Regions from separate parts of the Homo sapiens genome. Here region 2 is linked to region 1. Evidence: fine-mapped QTL for protein levels in blood plasma. A gene starts in region 1. The other region holds a variant in brackets. All regions are shown on one strand. Distances are from middle to middle. Region 1 holds the start of GZMM (granzyme M). Region 2 has its middle 4.1 kb from the start of CDC34.

Evidence for each region. A credible set is the group of variants that fine-mapping cannot tell apart. PIP is the posterior inclusion probability: the model's chance that the variant is causal. Sun 2018 read protein levels with aptamers (SomaScan).
Region 2: its variant is the best candidate, but not a certain one, in a credible set for the plasma level of the GZMM protein (Sun 2018, PIP 0.90).

Annotation. Positions count from the first base shown.
Region 1 is chr19:535,799-552,105 of GRCh38, forward strand. GZMM (granzyme M) reads left to right here and starts at 8,255. Exons shown (of 5, transcript NM_005317.4): 1 at 8,255-8,328; 2 at 11,482-11,638; 3 at 12,744-12,879; 4 at 13,124-13,387; 5 at 13,832-14,124. The coding sequence starts at 8,274. The coding sequence ends at 13,993. CDC34 (cell division cycle 34, ubiquitin conjugating enzyme) reads left to right here. Exons shown (of 5, transcript NM_004359.2): 2 at 39-125; 3 at 445-542; 4 at 1,215-1,349; 5 at 5,541-6,289. The coding sequence ends at 5,754. RefSeq lists a silencer at 1-82 and an enhancer at 7,623-8,268.
Region 2 is chr19:524,005-531,383 of GRCh38, forward strand. No RefSeq gene overlaps it. Among named protein-coding and RNA genes, the nearest start is that of CDC34, 4.1 kb to the right of the region's middle. RefSeq lists a silencer at 7,261-7,379. The variant GT/G (reference allele first, on the strand shown) is at 5,951.

The sequences.
Region 1 (16,307 bases):
CTGGGCTGGACTGAGCCACCTGCCTTCTGCCCCTGCAGGCGCGCCTCAAGTTCCCCATCGACTACCCATACTCTCCACCAGCCTTTCGGTTCCTGACCAAGATGTGGCACCCTAACATCTACGAGGTGAGCGCGGCCCCCACGGGCCTCAAGTCCTCATCCTCCGGGACCCAGGGTGCTGGGAGCCTCACGTCCTCATCCTTCCGGGACCCGGGGCGCTGGGAGCCTCACGTCCTCGTCCTCCGGGACCCGGGGCGCTGGGAGCCTCACGTCCTCGTCCTTCCGGGACCCGAGGCGCTGGGAGCCTCATGTCCTCGTCCTTCCGGGACCCGGGGCGCTGGGAGCCTCACGTCCTCGTCCTCCACGTCCTCATCCTCCGGGACCTGGGGCACTGGGAGCCCGTGCTGACCTCTGACCTGTTCTGACCTGTCTTCTTCTTGTGCAGACGGGGGACGTGTGTATCTCCATCCTCCACCCGCCGGTGGACGACCCCCAGAGCGGGGAGCTGCCCTCAGAGAGGTGGAACCCCACGCAGAACGTCAGGTAAGCCGGCCCAACCCCCTGTGTCCACCCAGAACATCAGGTAGGCCGGGCTCCGTCCCGTATCCACCCAGACCATCAGGTAGGCCGGGCTCCCCCACAGGCTGTGGCGCCAAGGCCTGATTCGGGACCTGCCAGCTGGCGGTCCTGGGCCTCGCTGTACCTGCACGGTAGGTGCTTTCACGGGGCCTGCGGCACCGTGTGTCGGTGCAGACTCCCACCAGGACCCCAGGCCGGCCCCACCGTCTGGAACCACCTAGAGGTGTCCCGCCATCCTCAGTCCTGGGGCCTTCTCCTTACCCAGCCGTCTCTGGGTTGGTCACCTCGTGCCACGTGTGCCGCCTGGGCCTCGTCCCCAGGTACAAGCACTGGGCCGTGTTGCCCGTGTGTCCTGGAGTGTAGTCTAGGCAGGACGTGCGGGTGTGAGGGCAGCCCCGGGTCTGACGGAGGGGTCTGCACCTTGCTGCCCTCCCTGGTCTTGGCGTGGGAGGGAGGAGACTGATGCAGGTCCAGCCCCTGCTGTTCTGGGGGCCTGAGACAGAAGCAGAGGCCATGAGGCCAGGTGAAGGTCACCTGCTGGGTGGGTCCAGGCGTCCCCGTGACCCTCAGGGCCAGAGAAGAGCCGGAAGGCTGGGGTGCCCCGGGCCGCCCCACTCCGACCCACTCTCCCCACAGGACCATTCTCCTGAGTGTGATCTCCCTCCTGAACGAGCCCAACACCTTCTCGCCCGCAAACGTGGACGCCTCCGTGATGTACAGGAAGTGGAAAGAGAGCAAGGGGAAGGATCGGGAGTACACAGACATCATCCGGTGAGGGCGGGCGGGGGCGTCACGGGAGGAGAGACTCAGATCCGGCCTGCACCCCGGCCCCTGGTCCCACGGCCGCCCAGCCCCACCTTCCTGGTGAGGGTGGCGGAGCTTCCTGGTGCCCATTTACAGGGTGCCAGTCACAGATGGAGGCCGGGCCGAGTGGCGGAGGGTCCAGCCAGGTTCAAGCCCAGCTTCTTGCCCCTTTTCCTCTTTTTTTTTGTTTGAGACAGAGTCTCTCTCTGTCACCCAGGCTGGAGTGCAGTGGCGCGATCTCGGCTCACTGCAAGCTCCGCCTCCCGGGTTCACGCCATTCTCCTGCCTCAGCCTCCCAAGTAGCTGGGACTACAGGCGCCCGTCACCACGCCCGGCTAATTTTTTGTATTTTTAGTAGAGACGGGGTTTCAGCGTGTTAGCCAGGATGGTCTCGATCTCCTGACCTCGTGATCCATCTGCCTCGGCCTCCCAAAGTGCAGGGATTACAGGCGTGAGCCACCGCGGCCGGCCTTTTTTTTTTTTTTTTTTTTTGGAGACAGAGTTATACTCTCTTGCCTAGGCTGCAGTGCAGTGGTGCGATCTCGGCTCACTGCAGCCTCCACTACTCGGGTTGGAGCAGTTCTCCCCCTTCATCCTGCCAAGCAGCTGGGATTACAGGTGCCCACTACCACGCCGAGCTAATTTTTGTAATTTTTAGTAGAGGTGGGATTTCACCATCTTAGCCAGGCTGGTCTCAAACTCCTGACCTCAGGTGATCCACCCGCCTCGGCCTCCCAAAGTGCTGGGATGACAGGCGTGAGCCACTGCACCTGGCCTGGTGGTTAGTGTTTTCATAGATTCTTCCAGGCTTTTCAGTTTAACGCATGTCTGTGCTTTAATGAAGAAATGGGGTCGTGCTGTGTGTGCCCAGTGACTGACTGTTAGGGAACATGTGTCTGTGCCTTAATGAAGAAATGGGGTCGTGCTGTGTGTGCCCAGTGACTGACTGTTAGGGAACATGTGTCTGTGCTTTAATGAAAAAATGGGGTCGTGCTGTGTGTGCCCAGTGACTGACTGTTAGTCAGGGGTGTTGGCCTTACTCATGTCTGGAGTGCGTCCCTGCAGGCTCTTGGCCTGGTGAGCTCTGGGTACAGCTGTGCAGTCGCCTACCGGCGCCTTCTGTACCTGCAGTCCACTTAGCTTGCGTGGCTGTGTGTGGTGACCCACGGCTCTCCCTCTCCTCCCATCGCCCTCATGCCCCAGAGCTGAGCCCCACAGCCCCTTCTCTTGGGTGCCTGTGTTCACATGAATGTGTAAACACGTGCGTGTCTGTGTACAAAGACAAGGCTTTCTTTACGGGTTGACGGCCTTAATGGTTCCTGCTCTTCCTGTTACATAGAGGCCCTTCCTATCCATTTTTTTTTTTTCTCAGAGTGATATTGCATAGATTTCCTCACAGAGGCCTCACCTATTTTTGTTGGTATTTTGTATAAACAGAATCTTAAAAACAACTTTTAAAATATTGCACACATAATGCATGTGTCTTCCTCGCCCCAGGACCCAGGAGCATCCAGGGCACCTTCCATCCTGCACTCGCTGGTACCTGGTGTCGTGGGGTCATCTCGGGGCAGCATCCTGGTGCTGGGCGGTCTCGGCTCTGAGCAGCCATGGTGGGCGGGCCCCGTGCGGCCTCCTGGGAAGTGGCCTGCAAGCACCTGCTGGCCTCTGGAGGTCACAGGGTAGCTGCCCTGGCCGTCCCTCTGGTGCAGATGTCCTCGGTGGCCCCGGTCCGGTCGTGTCACCTGGCCCAGGTGGCTGGCTCCTTGGCCCGGTTCTTCCCGGCCACCTCCCTGAGGCACCACCTCCTTGAGATCCCAGCACAGAAATAAAAGCCACACTATTTTTATCCCTCAAAACTCCCTGTGGGCCAACACACATGTGCCATGTGGACTCTGCTGTGGTCGCCGTTTCTGCCTGTTTTTTCATCTGTGTGCGTGTTGGCCTCGTGGCAGCCCAAGTCCCGCTGAGCTGTGTCGGGCAGGCTGCCGTGGAGCCCGGCTTGGTCAGGGATGTTGGTCTTGCTGAACAGGACCTCCAGACCGTCCTCCAGCTCATGCTGGCGGTGTGCCGGCGGCACCTCCACGGTGCAGGTCAGTTCCCACCCTGGCCCTCCCCTGCGTCTCCCCACAGCCGCCACCTCTGCGGTGCCGTCCCCGGGGCACCGTCACCCCCCCAGCCCGTCCACCCTGGCCCTCCCCTGCGTCTCCCCACTGCTGCCACCCGTGCAGTGCCGTCCCCGGGGCACTGTCAGTCACCCCCCCAGCCCATCGGAGAGCTTGGAAAGCAAAGCTTGGCGTCCGCTGGGTCCCGCCACCCAGGGACGTCCCTGAGGCCAGACGCCTGCCCTCCACGCGTCATGCATCCCCATAAAAAGCACTGGGCTTGTGGGCTGGGCTTGGGGCTGTCTGTCTGCTCCCTGGTGCCCTCCCATGCGGGCACTGTGGGACCCGCACACCCTGGTAGCAGCCAGCCCCAGAGCCCAGAGCCGTGCCTGGTCGGTGATAGGGGCTCGAGCCCATTGCCTGCGGCTGCAGCCTCGTTCCTGTTTTCTGTCAAATGGGGTCAGCGTGCCGCCTGGCCCTGCTGTGCCACCCCCGGAAGCCCCTTTGCTTCCAGTCCTGGGGGGACATTCTTGACGCGTGTCCTGGAGGTGGAGCCGGGGGCAGGTTCCTCGTAGGTCCTGGTGTGCGCGGTGCAGCCCCTCATAGGGCCGGGTGTACACGGTGCCCTCCAGGAAGTTTGAGCTAACTTGTCCTCCCTTCCTGCCAGAGGCTGGGATGGCCAGGCCCCCCAGGTTTAGAATCCGGAGGCCGGGGTGGCCAGGCCCCCAGGTTTAGAATCCGGAGGCCGGGGTGGCCAGGCCCCCCACGTTTAGAATCCGGAGGCCGGGGTGGCCAGGCCCCCCAGGTTTAGAATCCGGAGGCCGGGGTGGCCAGGCCCCCCACGTTTAGAATCCGGAGGCCGGGGTGGCCAGGCCCCCCGGGTTTAGAATCCGGAGGCCGGGGTGGCCAGGCCCCCCGGGTTTAGAATCCGGAGGCCGGGGTGGCCAGGCCCCCCGGGTTTAGAATCCGGAGGCCGGGGTGGCCAGGCCCCCCGGTTTAGAATCCGGAGGCCGGGGTGGCCAGGCCCCCCGGGTTTAGAATCCGGAGGCCGGGGTGGCCAGGCCCCCCGGGTTTAGAATCCGGAGGCCGGGGTGGCCAGGCCCCCCGGGTTTAGAATCCGGAGGCCGGGGTGGCCAGGCCCCCCGGGTTTAGAATCCGGAGGCCGGGGTGGCCAGGCCCCCCGGGTTTAGAATCCGGAGGCCGGGGTGGCCAGGCCCCCCGGGTTTAGAATCCGGAGGCCGGGGTGGCCAGGCCCCCCGGGTTTAGAATCCGGAGGCCGGGGTGGCCAGGCCCCCCGGGTTTAGAATCCGGAGGCCGGGGTGGCCAGGCCCCCCGGGTTTAGAATCCGGAGGCCGGGGTGGCCAGGCCCCCCGGGTTTAGAATCCGGAGGCCGGGGTGGCCAGGCCCCCCACGTTTAGAATCCGGAGGCCGGGGTGGCCAGGCCCCCGGGTTTAGAATCCGGAGGCTGGGATGGCCAGGCCCCCGGGTTTAGAATCCAGAGGCTGGGATGGCCAGGCCCCCCGGTTTAGAATCCGGAGGCCGGGGTGGCCAGGCCCCCGGGTTTAGAATCCTGCTGAGGCCACGGAGAGGCTCAGGCCGTTTTTGCGTTTCCCATCTCACCTGTGCTGGTTCCCGTCTCCAGGGATGGTCCTGCCTCCTGTCCTTGGGCCCTCCCAGCTGCTTCCTTTGCTCCTGCGCTGAGGAAGGCTTTTGCCCCCCAGTGGGGCAGCATGGGCCCTCCCTGTTGCCGGCATCGTTATTTTCTCCCAGCTCCTGATGGGTCCCTTGGGTTGTGCTTCGGGGCGGGGCAGGCGGGTGTGACTGCACTGCGCCCGTCCAGCCTCCCACCCGCACCTCCTGCCCTTCCCGAGCCCCCTCCTCTGTCATTTCTCCCCCTGGAGTTCCTCACGCACAGGGCTTTGTCCTAAGTGGTCGCCACACGCCGTTTTAAGAGAAACCTGAGCGTTGGGGTGAGCGTCGGACCTGGGGGAGGGGGGCCGGGCAGGGGCCGAGTCCAGGCACGTGGGTGGCGCCCTCACCCACCCTGTCCCCCCAGGAAGCAGGTCCTGGGGACCAAGGTGGACGCGGAGCGTGACGGCGTGAAGGTGCCCACCACGCTGGCCGAGTACTGCGTGAAGACCAAGGCGCCGGCGCCCGACGAGGGCTCAGACCTCTTCTACGACGACTACTACGAGGACGGCGAGGTGGAGGAGGAGGCCGACAGCTGCTTCGGGGACGATGAGGATGACTCTGGCACGGAGGAGTCCTGACACCACCAGAATAAACTTGCCGAGTTTACCTCACTAGGGCCGGACCCGTGGCTCCTTAGACGACAGACTACCTCACGGAGGTTTTGTGCTGGTCCCCGTCTCCTCTGGTTGTTTCGTTTTGGCTTTTTCTCCCTCCCCATGTCTGTTCTGGGTTTTCACGTGCTTCAGAGAAGAGGGGCTGCCCCACCGCCACTCACGTCACTCGGGGCTCGGTGGACGGGCCCAGGGTGGGAGCGGCCGGCCCACCTGTCCCCTCGGGAGGGGAGCTGAGCCCGACTTCTACCGGGGTCCCCCAGCTTCCGGACTGGCCGCACCCCGGAGGAGCCACGGGGGCGCTGCTGGGAACGTGGGCGGGGGGCCGTTTCCTGACACTACCAGCCTGGGAGGCCCAGGTGTAGCGGTCCGAGGGGCCCGGTCCTGCCTGTCAGCTCCAGGTCCTGGAGCCACGTCCAGCACAGAGTGGACGGATTCACCGTGGCCGACTCTTTTCCCTGCTTTGGTTTGTTTGAAATCTAAATAAAACTACTTTATGAGAGGCCAGAGAAGCTGTGCTTGGGAGGGAGAGGCAGCCTCCACGTCCATGAGTGACTGCACACGGCCAGTCCCACTGGGACCCTGGCTACGCCAGGTGTGGATCTGGGAGGCCTGTCCTGGGAGGCACGGGGAGCAGCCGGGTCCCGCGGCCTGTACGTTCCCATGACTTGGGTCAGACAGGCCTGGGCAGCATCCCCCAGCCTGCGGGACAGGGGCGGCCAGAAAGCCCCCAGAGTTCCTCCTCCCTGTGACCAGGTGCATCTAGTGGGACGGGAGCTGCCTCTGCAGGCATCCAGCAAAGCTTCGTCGCGGGTCCACAGCCGCCTGGGCGTTGATCTCAGCGTCTCAGGGCTCCCAGGACCACAGATGCCCCCGATCAGCACTCCGGCGGCTCCAGCTCCGTCCAGGCACACCCTCGGGGTGGGGAGCCGTGGCCCTGGGCACACAGGGCAGGCACCTCACGTCCTGGTGTCAGGAAGTCCCCAGCATCGTTTTATTACATGTCATGGAGGAAAGCTCGGAGCTCCCATGCCCTCCCGGGGCACCGCCTTCCAGGAACCTGCCTGCGTTCCGCTTCTGGGCACCCGGAAAGTCGCTCAGTGGCTGATTCAGGGTCGAGGAGCTGTGAGGATGAGGTTTCCCACCAAGTTGGGACAGAAAATGGGGCCCTGGGGTCTCAGCAAACCATGGCCCTCGGGACCAAACCTGGCGTCCGCCCCTATTGTGAGTGAAGTGTTACTGGCACAGCCACACCCAGGTCTCAGGATCATCCATAGCTGCTTGGTTTGGTTTGGTTTTGTTTTTGAGACACAGTCTTGTGTTGCCCAGGCTGGAGTGCAGTGGTGCGATCTCGCCTCCTGGGTTCAAGTGATTCTCCTGCCTCAGCCTCCTGAGTAGCTGGGACTACAGGCTCCCACCACCATGCCCAGCTGATTTTTGTATTTTTAGTAGAGATGGGGTTTCACCATGTTGGCCAGGATGGTCTCGAACTCCCAACCTCAGGTGATCGCCCGCCTCGGCCTCCCAAAGTGCTGGGATTACAGGCGTGAGCCGCCGCGCCCGGCCTAAATTTATTTATTTTTGAGACAGGGTCTTGCTCTGTCACCCAGGCTGAAGAGCAGTGGTGCAATTACGGCTCACTGCAGCCCCAACCTGGGCTCAAGCGATCCTCCTGCCCCAGTCTCTCAAAGTGCTGGGATTACAGGTGTGAGCCACCGCCTTCGGCCAGTGTCTTTATTCATGAAGACCAAAAACTAGAACAGCGCAAATATCCGTCCGCTGGTGAATGCATAAACACAGCGTGGTCCAGCCACACAATGGGATGTGACACAGCCACAAAAAGGAGCGAGGCTCTGACACAGGCCACAGCCTGGATGCACCTTGAGGACGTCATGCTGGGAGAGACGCCAACGCAACAGGTCCTGTGTGATTCCACTCCTGGGAGGTCCCTAGAGACCAATTCAGAGGCAGGAAGTAGTGGCCGGGCGCGGTGGCTCATGCCTGTAATCCCAGCACTGGGAGGCCGAGGTGGGTGGATCACCTGAGGTCGGGAGTTTGAGACCAGCCTGGTCAACATGGTGAAACCTCGTCTCTACTAAGAATACGAAAATTAGCCGGGCGTGGTGGTGGGCACCTGTAGTCCCACTACTCGGGAGGCTGAGGCCGGAGTATGGCGTGAACCCGGGAGGCGGAGCTTGCAGTGAGCCGAGATCGCACCACCGCACTCCAGCCTGGGCGACAGAGCGAGACTCCATCTCTGAAAAAAAAAAAAAAAAAAAAGTGTTACTTTGTCAGGTGTGATGATGGTAGTGTGGCTTCATCTCGAGTCCTCTTTGAGAAACACTTTCTAAAATGCTCAAGGATGGAGGGTGGAGGGTGTGCAGCGGTGGGCGGGGCTGTGACCGTCACCTCACCTCCCCCACAGGAAGCGCGTGTGGGGAGGCTCGGGGCCGGGGCCAGCACCCACACTGGGTCTCCACAGCGGCATGGAGGCCTGCGTGTCTTCACTGCTGGTGCTGGCCCTGGGGGCCCTGTCAGTAGGTGAGTGGGAGCCGGGATGCAGGGGGGACACTGAGGCCCAGCGCTCTCGGTGGGTCCCTGGATGGGAGGGGTGGGCGCGGGCGCCGACATCCTGGGTGTAAGAGCGGAGATTCATCCTTGTTTGGAGGGGGACTGAGGCCTGGGGCATCCCGAGCTCCTCACGCTTCACCCCGAGTGGACATCCCGGGACCGTGGGAGAGTGTGGTGTCCACCGGCTCACCTCGCCCATCCTCCCGGCAGCAGCCAGAAGGCAGGGGTCACGCTCACACCCGAGGTGCAGAGTAGGAGACTGAGACTTGGCGAAGGAGATGCTGACCTAGGACTGCCCAGCTGGGAGGGCAGAGCTGGGACTCGATCCCCGCTGGCTGCCTGCCACCACCAAGGGCTTGGCTGGGACTAGGTGCCCAGCAGTGAGGGAGAAGGGAGGTGGGTGGCGGCTCCCCTGCATTCCAGCTGGACTGAGTGACAGGGGCTCTTGATGAGTTGGGGACCCAAGAAGATGGACAGAGGTAGGAATCCAGCCGTCAGTCATCATCATCCTTCCTCCCATTTTTATTTCCTTCCACCCATGGGTCCATCATCCCTCCCTCCCTCCCTCCCTCCCTCCCTCATCTCCCCTTCCTTCCCTCTACCCGTCCGTCCACCCATCATTCCTCCTTCCATTCTTCCACCCACCCATCCATCATCCATCCCTCTACCCATGGGTCCATCATCCATCCCTCCCTCCCTCCTTTCGTTCCCCCTTCCTTCCCTCCGCCAGTCCATCCACCCATCATTCCTCCTTCCTCCCATTCTTCCACCCACCCGTCCATCCATCATCCATCCCTCCTTTCAACCTCCCTCCTTCCCTCCACCCGTCATCCTTCCCTCCCTCCTTCCATGTATCCACCCATCCATCCATCATGCCTCTCTCTTCCTTTCCCCCCTCCTTCCCTCCTCCCTCCCATCCATCCATCATCCATTCCTCCTTCCATCCCTCCTTCCTTTCTCCCGTGCTTCTGTGTATCCATCCGTATTTGCAGGGCTCGTGCTGTTCTAGGCCTGCCCTCCTGTCTGACTGGAAGAGACAGGCCAGGCATGAGACTGTGCAGAGCGGAGGAAACACGGAGGGCAAGAGGGCGGGTGGGGGGCCGTTGCAGGAGACGAGCATAAACCAAGGGAGGAAGCCGGTGGGGGAAAGGTACGCAGGCAGCTAAGTGAGACAGACAAAGGCCCAGGGTGCAGGCAGCTTGCAGGCACAGCTAGACTTGCACTCTTGTCACCCAGGCTGGAGTGCGATGGTGCCATCTCGGCTCACTGCAGCCTCCGCCTCCTGGTTTCAAGCGATTCTCCTGCCTCAGCCTCCCGAGTAGCTGGGATTACAGGCGCCTGCCACCATGCCGGGCTAATTTTGTATTTTTAGTAGAGACAGGGTTTCCCCGTGTTGGTCAGGCTGGTCTCAAACTCCCAACCTCAGGTGATCCGCCTGCCTCGGCCTCCCAAAGCGCTGGGATTACAGGCGTGAGCCACCGCGCCCGGCCTATTTTTTTTTTTTAAGATGGAGTTCTGCTATTCTTGCCCAGGCTGGAGTGCAATGGCACGATCTCGGCTCACCACAACCTCTGCCTCCCGGGTTCAAGCGATTCTCCTGTCTCAGCCTCCCAAGTAGCTGAGATTACAGATGCCCGCCACCTCGCCCGGCTAATTTTTTGTATTTTTAGTAGAGACGGGGTTTCACCGTGTTAGCCAGGATGGTCTCGATCTCCTGACCTCGTGATCCACCTGCCTCGGCCTCCCAAAGTGCTGGGATTACAGGCGTGAGCCACCGCACCCGGCCTTAATTTCTGTATTTTTAGTACAGACGGGGTTTTACCACATTGGCCAGGCTGATCTCCAACTCCTGACCTCAGGCTGTCTGCCCACCTTGACCTCCCAAAGTGCTGGGATTATAGGCGTGAGCCACTGCACCGGCCCGCAAGCGGGGACTTGATTTTCAAAGCATGATGGGGATTCAGAGAAGATTTTGAGCTGATTTACGTTACATTATGAAATCAATCCTTTTATATTTATGATTGATTTAAAATAATTTTTGTACAGCTTTATTAGGAAATTATGCACTATACAATTTACTTATTTAAAGACTACATTTCTTGCTGGGCACAGTGGCTCACGCCTGTCATCCCAGCACTTTGGGAGGCCAAGGAGGGTGGATCACCTGAGGTTAGGTGTTTGAGGCCAGCCTGGCCAACACGGCGAAACCCTGTCGCTACTAAAAATACAAAAAAATTAGCCGGACGTGGTGATGCGCTTCTGTAATCCCAGCTACTCGGGAGGCTGAGGCAGGAGAATCGCTTGAACCCAGGAGGCAGAGGTTGCAGTGAGCTGAGATCACGGCACTGCATTCCAGGCTGGGTAACAGAGTGAGACTCCATCTCAAAAAAAAAAAAAAAATGGCCAGGTGCAGTGGCTCATACCTGTAATCCCAGCACTTTGGGAGGCTGAGATGGGTGGATCACAAGGTCAGGAGTTCGAGACCAGCCTGGCTAACATGGTGAAACCCCATCTGTACTAAAAATACAAAAATTATCCAGGCGTGGTGGCAGGTGCCTGTAGTCCCAGCTACTCGGGAGACTGAGTCAGGAGAATGGCATGAACCCAGGAGGCGGAGCTTGCAGTGAGCCGAGATCGTGCCATTGCACTCCAGCCTGGGTGACAGAGCGAGACTCTGTCTCAAAAAAAAAGAAAAAAAAAGTTTTTTTTAAGAGACTGGGTCTTGCTGTGTCGCCCAGGCTGGTCTCGAACTCCTGGCCTCAAGTGATCCTCCCTCCTCAGCCTCCCGAAGTGCTGGGATCACAGGGGTGAGCCACCCACATCCGGCCTGATGTGCGTTTTGAAGGACTCCTGTGGCTGTGGGGCCCAGTGGGGCCTGGGGAGGTCCTGGAGAGGGGATTGGGAGGTGGCCTGGGGGGAACATGATGGGGGTGATGAGAGGGGGATGGGAGGGATGAAGGGCAGCCCACACGTATCAGCCTAAAAGTTTCGGGGAACACTGGGGACTTCATTAGGATGGCACATCTGCTTGGGGTCCTGGGCCTCTGAGCTGGGCAAGGACAGTCGCAGCAGGCAGCAGGGGCATGTAGCCCCAACCTGGCTCTTTGTCCCCCATCCTGGCAGGCAGCTCCTTTGGGACCCAGATCATCGGGGGCCGGGAGGTGATCCCCCACTCGCGCCCGTACATGGCCTCACTGCAGAGAAATGGCTCCCACCTGTGCGGGGGTGTCCTGGTGCACCCAAAGTGGGTGCTGACGGCTGCCCACTGCCTGGCCCAGCGGTGAGTACCCTGCCCTGCCCACCCCAGGGGTCCGGGGAATCCATCCGACGGCGCCCATTCTCTGCAGGGGGTGGGCTCTGGGAGATTTAGGCCCATTGTGGGACCCCCGTCCCCTCCCGGTGACGACTTAGGCAGGTTTAAGTGACCTGCGGCTGTGGGACTCCTGGAGAAGGTTTACTCCTTGCAAGAGGCACTGGCAGGGCCAGCTCCTTCCACACCGCAGCCTGGGTCAGAGCCTGGCTCCTTTCACGGCTGAGCCACAGTCCTGGTGTGGACAGAGTGCATTGTGTCTGTCCATTCACCTGCTGATGGACCCAACTTAGGCGGGGGCTTCTGCTATAAGGAAGGAGGGTCAGGTGGGGGTGTTTGCCACCTGTGGCCAGGAGGTCGAAGCCGGCCTTCGAGAGTGGCTCGGGAATCGACCTGGTTCCCGGGGATCAGGAAGCCGCTAAATGACCCATCATGGAGTTGCCCTACCTCAGGACTGGTCCGTCATACAGAGCCCAGATCAAGATGGTCAAAGTAACAAAAAGGGATCTGCCGGCTTGTGTAACTGCAAAGTCTAGGAGGAGGCCTGGCTTCAGGTGCGGCTTGATCCAGGTGCTCACAGGAGGCGCTGTGGAGCCCATCTGTCTCCCAGCTCTGCTGCACTACCAGGAAGCCTGTCTCACAAGGTGGAAAGATTGACCCTCCTCAGTCCCATGGAAAGAGGGCTTGGCTCTCTAAAGTTGGGGCACACTTAGGAGGATTGGCATGTGTCAACCCCTGTACAAATCACTGTGGTTGAGCCTGGGGCCCCAAGTGAAGGGAATTCCCAGGGCTGGTTTTCGTGAAGCTGTAGGCTTGGGGTTGGATTTTTGGACACACAGCCCTTGCCTGGGGCCAGGGCCGGGCAGAAGTCTGGGGCAGGGGTGAGAGCAGGGAGGGCTTCCTGGAGGAGGTGGGTTGCAAAGACACAGGGAAGGACTGGCCAAGCCAAGGCCTGTGAGGGGCAGCGGCTGTGAGTGATGGCCATGGACAACGGGCACAGTGGGGGCCGGGACTGCATGTGGCGGGTCGTCCACGCCGGGCCAGGCCGCAGCACCCTGATTCCCTCTGTCCCCAGGATGGCCCAGCTGAGGCTGGTGCTGGGGCTCCACACCCTGGACAGCCCCGGTCTCACCTTCCACATCAAGGCAGCCATCCAGCACCCTCGCTACAAGCCCGTCCCTGCCCTGGAGAACGACCTCGCGCTGCTTCAGGTGTGCAGGGACGGGACAGGGAGAACTGGGCACCCTCCTGTCCCCCACGGGTGCCCCTCACCCCCACTGCGCCCTCCCCCCGCTGCCGACCCTCCCCCCGCACTGCTGCCCCTCCCCCCGCACTACTGCCCCCTCCCCCATTGCCCACCCTCCCCCCACTGCCACCCCTCCCCCCGCTGCCGCCCCCCGCCCCCGCACTCTCACCCCCTCCCCCTGCTCACCTGCCCCTTCCTGTCACTCGTAGCTGGACGGGAAAGTGAAGCCCAGCCGGACCATCCGGCCGTTGGCCCTGCCCAGTAAGCGCCAGGTGGTGGCAGCAGGGACTCGGTGCAGCATGGCCGGCTGGGGGCTGACCCACCAGGGCGGGCGCCTGTCCCGGGTGCTGCGGGAGCTGGACCTCCAAGTGCTGGACACCCGCATGTGTAACAACAGCCGCTTCTGGAACGGCAGCCTCTCCCCCAGCATGGTCTGCCTGGCGGCCGACTCCAAGGACCAGGCTCCCTGCAAGGTGAGGGGCGCCCGGGTGGGGCTGGGGGAATGAGGCTGGCGGGAGGGCCGGGGCCAGGGCAGCCGCCGGGCAGGTTCCTGGCTCTCCCGTTCTCTGGGGAGTCCTGTCAGGGGCTGGGGGGCGGGGAAGCACTGGCAGGGGTCCCGTTTCTCAGGTGCAGAAACTGAGGCTCAGACAGGTTTAGCAACCTGCGCAAGACCACACAGCCGGGAAGCGGCAGAGCTGTGACTTCTGCTCCAGCCAAGACGGTCCGGCGGGGGAAGAAGGAGCAGGGTTCACAGGGCCAGCGGGAGATGGGGAGGGGACACGCGTGGGCCGGGAGCAGCCCCTGTGTCTCCTTGAGCCTGGGGATAACAGGCCTGGCCCTGCTCCCCTCGGCGGGCCCTGCTCCCCTCGTCCCCTCAGCAGGTGCAGAGGCTGAGCTGCGGTGTGTCGTCCCTGCAGGGTGACTCGGGCGGGCCCCTGGTGTGTGGCAAAGGCCGGGTGTTGGCCAGAGTCCTGTCCTTCAGCTCCAGGGTCTGCACTGACATCTTCAAGCCTCCCGTGGCCACCGCTGTGGCGCCTTACGTGTCCTGGATCAGGAAGGTCACCGGCCGATCGGCCTGATGCCCTGGGGTGATGGGGACCCCCTCGCTGTCTCCACAGGACCCTTCCCCTCCAGGGGTGCAGTGGGGTGGGTGAGGACGGGTGGGAGGGACAGGGAGGGACCAATAAATCATAATGAAGAAACGCTCAGAGCCCGCCTGAGTCCCAGCCCACCTCTGTCCATGCTGGCTGTGGGGCTTCCGACAAACCTGTTTCCCTCAGCCTCCCGAGTAACTGGGTCTACAGGCGCCCGCCACCACGCCAGGCTAACTTTTGGTATTTTTAGTAGAGAAGGGGTTTCTCCATGTTTGTCAGGCTGGTCTCCAACTCTTGACCTTGTGATCTGCCCACCTCGGCCTCCCAAAGTGCTGGGATTACAGGCGTGAGCCACCGCGCCCGGCCCTTCCCTGTTTTAAAAAGGGAGGTTGTGGATCCCAAGGCTTCTCCCAGGAGGGGGCGGCGTTGGCCAGGACTGGAGCGGTGGCCGGGTCTGCAGGCTGGCAGGGGTGGGCGGCCGTCCTCCCCGCGTGGCTCCTGGGGCTGGGCCTTGAACAGCATCCCAGGATCTTCTTTTTTAGTAACAGCTTTTATCAAGTTACAACTCACATAGCAGATGAGTCTCCCTGTAAACTGCGATTCAGGGGCCTTTGGTACCTGCACAGAGCTGGGCAACCACCACCGTGACATGTCACCCCAGCACCCCGAAAACAGGCCCGTCCCCAGTCACCCCAGCACCCCGAAAACAGGCCCGTCCCCAGTCACCCCAGCACCCCGAAAACAGGCCCGTCCCCAGTCACCCCAGCACCCCGAAAACAGGCCCGTCCCCAGTCACCCCAGCACCCCGAAAACAGGCCTGTCCCCTGTCACCCCAGCACCCTGAAAACAGTCCTGTCACCCCAGCACCCCGAAAACAGCCCTGTCCCCACTGTCACCCCAGCACCCCGAAAACAGGCCTGTCCCCACTGTCACCCCAGCACCCCGAAAACAGGCCCGTCCCCACTGTCACCCCAGCACCCCGAAAACAGGCCTGTCACCCCAGCACCCCGAAAACAGGCCTGTCCCCCTGTCACCCCAGCACCCCGAAAACAGGCCTGTCCCCACTGTCACCCCAGCACCCCGAAAACAGCCCTGTCCCCACTGTCACCCCAGCACCCCGAAAACAGGCCCGTCCCCACTGTCATCCCAGCAGCCCGAAAACAGGCCTGTCCCCACTGTCACCCCAGCAGCCCGAAAACAGGCCCCATCTCTATCACCCCAGCACCCCAAAAGGAAGCCCCACCCCCATTGTCATTCCAGCACCCCGAAAATAGACTCTGTCCCCACTGTCACCCCAGCACCCCAAAAGGAGGCTCGTCCCCATCGGCCGTCACTCCCCGTCCCCACCCCAGCCCCGGTGCCCTCACATCCCCTCCCTGTCTCTGGATGGGCCTGTGCTGACATTTCATGGACAGGGGATCACGCTGCGTGGCCTTCTGTGTCTGGCGTCTCCCGCTGAGCGTGACGTCCTCAAGCTGCACCCGCGCGCTGGCTGGGTCCGAGCCGTGCTCCTGCTCCGGGGGGTCGAGCTCCAGCTCGAGGGGGGCCTCGCTGCGTTTGTGGGTGCGTCCCTGGGTGCACATCTGGGCGGCTTCGTCTGCGTCCGTCCGTCTGAAGCTTTGCTGGGAGCCGCCTGTGTGCGTTTTCGTGTGGACCTACCTGCTCCTTCCTCCCTCCAGATTAGACCCGTGGGAGTGGCATCTCGGGCTGTTCAGTGACTCTGTTTCAGCGCCGCGCTGTTTTCCTGCAGAATCTTTTAATTTCACTACCAACTCTTTCTTTCTTTTCTTTTCTTTCTTCCCTTTCTTCCCCTTCTTCTCTTTCCCTCCCTTCCCCTTCTTCTCTTTCCCTCCCTTCCCCTTCTCTCCCCTCCCCTCCCCTCCTCTCTCTTTCTTTCTTTCCTTTCTTTCCTTTCTTCCCCGTCTCCCCTTCCCCTCCCCTCCCCTCTCCTCCCCTCCCCTCTCCTCCCCTCCTCTCTTTCTTTCTTTCTTTCTTTCTTTTCTTTTCTTTTTTTCTTTTATTTTCCTTTCTTTTCTTCTGATGGAGTCTCAGTGCGTCACCCGGGCTGGAGTGCAGTGGCACGATCTCGGCTCACTGCAAGCCATCTCAGGTTCAAGCGATGCTTGTGTCTCAGCCACCTGAGTAGCTGAGGGATCACAGACGTGCACCACCACGCCCAGCTAACTTTTTTTGTATTTTTAGTAGAGACTAATAGAAACACAGGTTTCACCACGTTGACCAGGCTGGTCTTGAACTCCTGACCTCAGGTGACCCGCCCACCTCGCCCTCCCAAAGTGCT
Region 2 (7,379 bases), 16 kb before region 1:
AGGAGAGGCCCCTGTCCTCCCGAAGCCCACAGCCAGGCAGGCTGAGGTGGGCTTAAATCCTGGACACCCGGACAGGGACGCAGGGCACGGAGGCTTCCAGGAGTGACCAATCAGAGGACACCAAAGCTGGTCCCAGGGTGCACCTCACACTCCGCCCCGGTCCCTTGAGGCCAAGGCCGACCGAAGCCCACCTCCCCTGCCCCGCCCAGCTCCCCGGGGCCTCCCCTGATCCCTGACCCTGTGCCGCCCACTGTGCCCGCCCTCAGGTCCCGAGGACCCCGTCTGTCCTAATCCCGGCATGACCCTTACCAGCGCAGCCCGGAAGCTGACGCGTCCTCCCTGGCCTCACAGCAGCATAGAGCGCGGCAATCCCCTCTGGCAGCACCCACAGGCTCCTGCCCCACCCCACAGTCCCCCTTGGAAGCTTCCTCTCTCTCCCCAGCTCCTCTGGTGGCTTCATCCAGGGCCTCCCCTCCTCCCAACAGTCCTCTGCTGGCTCCCTGGGGACATCCCAAGCCTGACACATCCAAGACGGAGCTTCCGGCCGGCTCCCTGGACCCCGGGCTCCTCCAGAGTTTCTGGTCTCTGTGGAAGCCTCTCACCCGATCCACTGAGCACTGAGACCACGGCCAGACGCCTTCCCGGGCTCCACAGCGGCCCTCACCACACCTCATCCTGAGGCACCCTGCCTGCCCTCCCTTCACTGCCCCCGGCTGGTCCAGCCAACACCCTCGCCCACCTGGACCCCCAGCCCTTCACCGCCCCCGGCTGGTCCAGCCAACACCCTCGCCCACCTGGACCCCCAGCCCTTCACCACGCCCCCGGCTGGTCCAGCCAACACCCTCTCCCACCTGGACCCCCAGCCCTTCACCGCCCCCGGCTGGTCCAGCCAACACCCTCGCCCACCTGGACCCCCAGCCCTTCACCGCCCCCGGCTGGTCCAGCCAACACCCTCTCCCACCTGGACCCCCAGCCCTTCACCGCCCCCGGCTGGTCCAGCCAACACCCTCTCCCACCTGGACCCCCAGCCCTTCACCGCCCCCGGCTGGTCCAGCCAACACCCTCTCCCACCTGGACCCCCAGCCCTTCACCGCGCCCCCGGCTGGTCCAGCCAACACCCTCTCCCACCTGGACCCCCAGCCCTTCACCGCCCCCGGCTGGTCCAGCCAACACCCTCGCCCAAATGGACTCCCAGTCCCCACCAGCCAGTCAAAGCATCCCTCCCCCAGCCTCAGCGATGGGTTCAGAGAAACCCAGCTGGCCAGTGAGATGCAGCCGGGAGCTGTTTCCGGGAGCGCAGTGCTGGGCGGCTGGGTTGGGTGCATGGGCTAGACTTTGCAGCCCTCACCTCCGCCATGTCTGCGAATAAAGCCGGCACTCAGGACAGCTGAGCGGGAGGCTCCCCAGCGTCTTCTCACCTCTGTCCCGCACTCACCACCCAGACCCTGGGCCTCTAGCCAGTCGGGCTGTCCCCACCTCAGGGCCCCTGGACGTGCTGTTCCCTCTCCCTGCAGCACTGTTCCCGCAGACCTGCCTGCTGCTTCCCCACGCCACCTGGGTCTCTGCTTATATGTCACCTCCTGAGTCCAAGATGCCTTCCTACACCATCCCGGTGGCTCTCTAACCCCTGGCATTCTTTAGAAACTGCTTATTTATGTATTTATATGCTGGTTTGTGGCCTCTCTCCCTGTGAACCCAAGGGCAAGAAGTTTACTGCTTTTGTTCACTGCTCAATCCCCAGAACCTAGATTTACACATAGAAGAGAAGGAAGAGAAGGAGAGAGGGAAGGAGGGCAAGGGAAGGGAAGGGGAAGGGAATGGAAGGGAAGGGGAGTGGAGGGGAGGGGAGGGGAAAGGAGGGGAAAGGAGGGGAAAGGAGGGGAGGGGGATAGGAAGAGAGGGGAGGGGGATGGGAAGAGAGGGGAGGGGGAGGGGAAGGGAGCAGAGGGGAGGGGAGGAGGAGGGGAGGGGAAGGGAGGGGAAGGGAAGAGAGGGGGAGAGGAAGGGAGGGAAAGAAGGAAGCAATTTTCCCCTAGGAAGAAGCTGGAAGTCATTGAGGTGTGTTAATCCCTGTAGCTGTAGTAACAAATTTAGTGACTTAGCGTGGACGTACCATCTCACAGCTCTGGAAGGCAGAACTTCTAAAATCGAGGCATGAACAGGGCTGGTCCCTCCTGGGGGCTCCAGGGAGAACCTGTTTCCTCCTTTCCCAGAGTCCAGAGGCGCCCGCATCCCTCAGCTCCAGGCCCTTCCTCCCCCTTCACCTCCAAGAGCGCAACCTCTTCCAGTCTCTGACTCTCGGCGCCCGCCCCCCACCGCCCTCTTAAACGGACCCTGTGAGGACATGGGCCCCCATCACCCCGGATGCTCTGCCGTCTCAGGGTTCTTATCACACCTGTAGAGTCCCTTTTGCCACCTGAGGTGGTACAGCCACAGATTCTGGGGATCAGGATGTGGATGTCTTGGGGGCCTTATTCCCTCTTCCACGGTGAGGAACTGGCCCGGGACTGCACAGAGGAAAGCTGACCTGGAAGCCTGTTCTGATGCATCTGGAAGCACACGGGCCCCACAGCCTTTTGCGTTTTTCCCCTTTTTTTTTTTTTAGACAGGGTCTCGCTCTGTGGCTCAGGCTGGAGTGCAGTGGTAAAATCACAGCTCACTGCAGCCTCAAACTCCTGGGCTCAGGCGATCCTCCTGCCTCAGCCTCCCAAGTAGCTGGGACCACAGGTATGTACCATCACACCTGGCTGCTTAAGAAACATTTTTTTTTTTTTTTTTTTTTTTTTTTTTTTTTTTTTGTGGAGACGAGGTCTGGCCATGTTGCCCAACGCCCCACAGCTGCTGTGTCCTGGCTCCCTGTCCCTCTCCCCTGAGGACCATATCCTCCCACATGCACCCCTCTGCCTTCTGAGAACTGTCTTTCTTCCCTACAAGGCATGAGAGCAGCAAGATGCCATCGTGTAAGAGTCTCAGTGACATCTTGGGCTCCACAGGAAGACCTTTGTACAACTATCTTATCTAACCCACTTTCAAATTAAAAAACTGAAAGTCGGGCTGGGCGCGGTGGCTCATGCCTGTCATCCCAGCAGTTTCAGAGGCCGAGGCAGGCGGATCACCTGAGGTCAGGAGTTCGAGACCAGCCTGGCCAACATGGCGAAACCCCGTCACTACTAAAACTACAAAAATTAGCCGAGTATGGTGGCGCACCTGTAATCCCAGCTACTCGGGAGGCTGAGGCAGGAGAATTGCTTGAACCCAGGAGGCAGAGATTGCAATGAGCCAAGATCGTGTCACTGCACTCCAGCCTGGGCAACAGAGTGAGACTCTGTCTCAAAATAAAATAATAAAATAAAATAAAAAACTGAAACTCATAGGCCAGGCACGGTGGCTCATGTCTGTAATCCCAGCACTTTGGGAGGCCAAGGAGGGTGGATCACATGAGGTCAGGAGTTCCAGACCAGCCTGGCCAACATGGTGAAACCCCATCTCTACTAAAAATATAAAAATTAGCTGGCATGGTGGCACAAGTCACCCACTTGGGAGGCTGAGGCAGGAGGATCACTTGAACCCGGGAAGCAAAGGATGCAGTGAGAAGAGATGGAGCCACTGCGCTCCAGCCTGGGTGACAGAGCAAGACGCCATCTCAAAAAAAAAATAATTAAATAAATAAATTAATTAAATAAACCTGAGACTGGGTTTAATGTTTGAGCGATATTTCCAAGGTCGTGGCAGAAACTAGATTTGAATTTAAGGTTCTTCTCTGCCATGTGATGGAAAACCTAACTCAAACTGGCTTAATTAACGAAGAAGGAATTTATTTTTACTTATTTATTTATTTTTGAGATGGAGTTTCACTCTTGTTGCCCAGGCTGGAGTGCAATGGCGTGATCTTGACTCACCACAACCTCCGCCTCCCAGGTTCAAGCGATTCTTGGGCCTCACCCTCCCGAGCAGCTGGAATTATAGGCATGTGCCACCACGCCCGGCTAATTTTGTATTTTTAGTAGAGACAGGGTTTCTCCATGTTGGTCAGGCTGGTCTGGAACTCCTGACCTCAGGTGATCCACCCTCCTCGGCCTCCCAAAGTGCTGGGATTACAGGTGTGAGCCACGGCGCCCGGCACGAAGAAGGAATTTAACCTGGTTGTGGTGGTGTGCACGTGTGGTCCCAGCTACCTGGGAGGCTGAGGTGGGAGGACTGTTTGAGCCCAGGAGTTCAAGGCCAGCCTGAGCAACAGGAACGGGGGCAGGGAGGGAGGAAAGGAAAATAAACTAAAAAGGCTGGGCGTGGTGGCTCACGCCTGTAATTCCAGTACTTTAAGAGGCCAAGGCAGGAGGATCACTTGAGGCTGAGAGATCGAGACCAGCCTGGCCAACATGGTAAAACCCCATCTCTACTAAAAATTCAAAAATTAGCTGGGTGTGACAGTGCACGCTTGTGATCCTAGCTACTTCGGAGACAGGTGGGAGGATTGCTTAAGCCTGGGAGGCAGAGGTTGCAATGAGCTGAGATTGCGCCACTGGACTCCAGCTTGGGTGACACAGAGAGACTCCATCTCAACACAAACGAACTAAGAGGCAAGAATTCATGAGCTTGCATCATTGGAACATCCAGGGGAGGTCAGGTAACAGCATGATGCAGGATCACTAATAGGATTATCAACGTTTCCCCTCTCATCAGCCGGCTCGGCTTTCCTGTGATGCCGCCTTTGTTCGGAGGCCCCGTGGTGACACCATGACCCCGTAACTCCAGCCCCAGGTCCTTCCAGCTCAGCCACCCCAGCACTGTGATCCCAGAGAAATGTCCCAGAGCTGAATCTCATTGGACGTCAGGAGTCACATGCTTGTTCCTGAACCAATCATTGCAGCCCAGGGTGGGGGCCCTGGGAACTGATGGGATGGCCCCTCCCTGCAGCCAGGGCTTGCGTCAGTCCAATTCGAACCCGTTCCCACAGAGTAGGGAGCCCCCAAGCAGGCAGGTGGAAGCCCCTGGTGTCCACCGCTCCCGGGTGCTGTGAGCCTGAGCCTCCCTGGGGGTCGGGGCCCTGTGGGACCAGCTGGAGGGGCTTGAAAATCTCCCCAACCCAGGCCGGGCGCGGTGGCTCACGCCTGTAATCCCAACACTTTGGGAGGCCGAGGCGGGCGGATCACGAAGTCAGGAGATCAAGACCATCCTGGCTAACACGGTGAAACCGCTTCTCTACTAAAAATACAAAAAATTAGCAGGGCGTGGTGGCATGCGTCTGTAGTCCCAGCTACTCAGGAGGCTGAGGCAGGAGAATCACTTGAACCCGGGAGGTGGAGGTTGCAGGGAGCCAAGATCGTGCCACTGCACTCCAGCCTGGGCGACAGAGCAAGACTCCTTCTCAAAAAAAAAAAAAAAAAAAAAAAGCGAGAGAAAGAAAACCTCCCTCACCCACACAGTGCTTCCTGGGATGTGGGTGTACGGAAGAAGAGAGATCTTGGGAGCCCTTAGAGAAGGAATCGTGGTTAATTCTAATTAGCATTAATTTACCCATGAGCTGCTGCCTGCCGGCTCCATGATGCTGGCAATATATCCACGACCTGTGGCACGGAAGAGACTGAGGCTCACAAAACCCTGGGAACCTTGGTGAAGGGGCCACAGCCAGAAGGCCCCACTAGTCCCGAGACCCTCCTTTTACTCCAGGCCCCCAGGGTGCCGGGCAGAGGGGCCTGAGGGAGGAGGCCCAGAGGCCCTTACGGGTGAGGACGCCTCGGCCTCGGCCCTGGACAGCTCTGGAAGTGACCGCTCGGCCCAGAGCTCTTTCTTGGATCCCTCCCTCCCTCTCCACTCCTGATGCTGTTTTCCTTTCCCCAGACAGGTTTGCCTGCTGGTCCTCTTCCGGGGACCAGACTCATGAAGCCGGGGCCAGGTGTTGGGGCACCTGCGGGACAGAGTGGCCCTGGTCCCAGACTGGTTTTTGTTTTTG[GT/G]TTTTTTTTTTTTTGAGACGGAGTCTCTGTCGCCCAGGCTGGAGCGCAGTGGCGCTATCTAGACTCACTGCAAGCTCCGCCTCCCGGGCTCACGCCATTCTCCTGCCTCAGCCTCCCGAGTAGCTGGGACTACGGGCGCCCGCCACCACGCCCAGATAATTTTTTGTATTTTTAGTAGAGACGGGGTTTCACCATATTAGCCACAATGGTCTCGATCTCCTGACATTGTGATCCGCCCGCCTCGGCCCCCCAAAGTGTTGGGATCACAGGCGTGAGCCACCGTGCCCGGCCTGTATGTTGATGCAGCTGTGTGTACCCAGGGCATAGCAACAATGCCACTGGCACAGTCCGAGGGCAGGGCCACCCGTCACGGGCACGACTCAGGGGAGGCTGGGCTGCCCCGTCCTCACCACGGCCAGTTCTCCCGACCAAGCTTCACAGCAAGGAGCATGTGGGTGTCTGGGCAGCCACTGAGCCAGGTCAGAAGTCAGGTGGGGTCACAGTGATGCCCGGAATCAGCTGGGGTCAAGACTCAGGTGGGCTGGGCGCGGTGGCTCATGCCTATAATCCCAGCATTTGGGAGGCCGACGCAGACGGATCCCTTTATTAGTCCAAACTGCATCCTCCCCTTCCTTTCAAAACCTAACAACACACTTGAGGTCAGGGGTTCGAGACCAGCCTGGCCAACATGGTGAAACCCCATCTCTACTTAAAATACAAAATTAGCCGGACGTGGTGGCGGGCACCTGTAATCTCAGCTACTCGGGAGGCTGAGGCGGACACTAGCTTGAACCCGGGAGGCGGAGGTTGCAGTGAGATTGTGCCACTGCACTCCAGCCTGGGCCACAGAACGAGACTCTGTCTCATTTAAAAAAAAAAAAAAAAAAAAGACTCGGGTAGGACAAAGGTCAGGCTGGGAGGAGGGCACAGCCAGGCTCGGGCTCAGCTTGGGGTGGGGGCTCCGTGGGGCTGGCGCCTCTCCCGGGTCAGGTGCTGAGCCGATGCTGGCCGGCGTAGGCCTCTTTCCCAGTTTCTCTGGGGGGCAGGAGCACCTTGCCAACCTCTGATGGCTCCAGCGCCTGCACTCGCCTCACACCACATGGTGACTTCAACGGGGACCAGGGAAGCCCTCGCCCCTCCCACCCCTCAGAGCCCTCCCCGACCTCGCCCACTTCTCAGAGCTCCCGCTGTCGGGGGAACCGAGGCAGCGCCGCGCCTGGAAGCCAGGTCTGCGGATCCCGCCTCGCTCCCGCCCCTTCCTCCCTTCCGCGTGGCCAGCGCGACCCTAGGACAGACTTCGCGCCCGTCCCCTGCACAGACGGGGAAACGGAGACGGGGACGCGGGGTCGCGCCGGATGGACCGGCCCTGCCCCTCCGGTCCCGGTCAGGACCCCGCGCCGCGCCCCGTTCACCGCCCGCGGCCCCGCC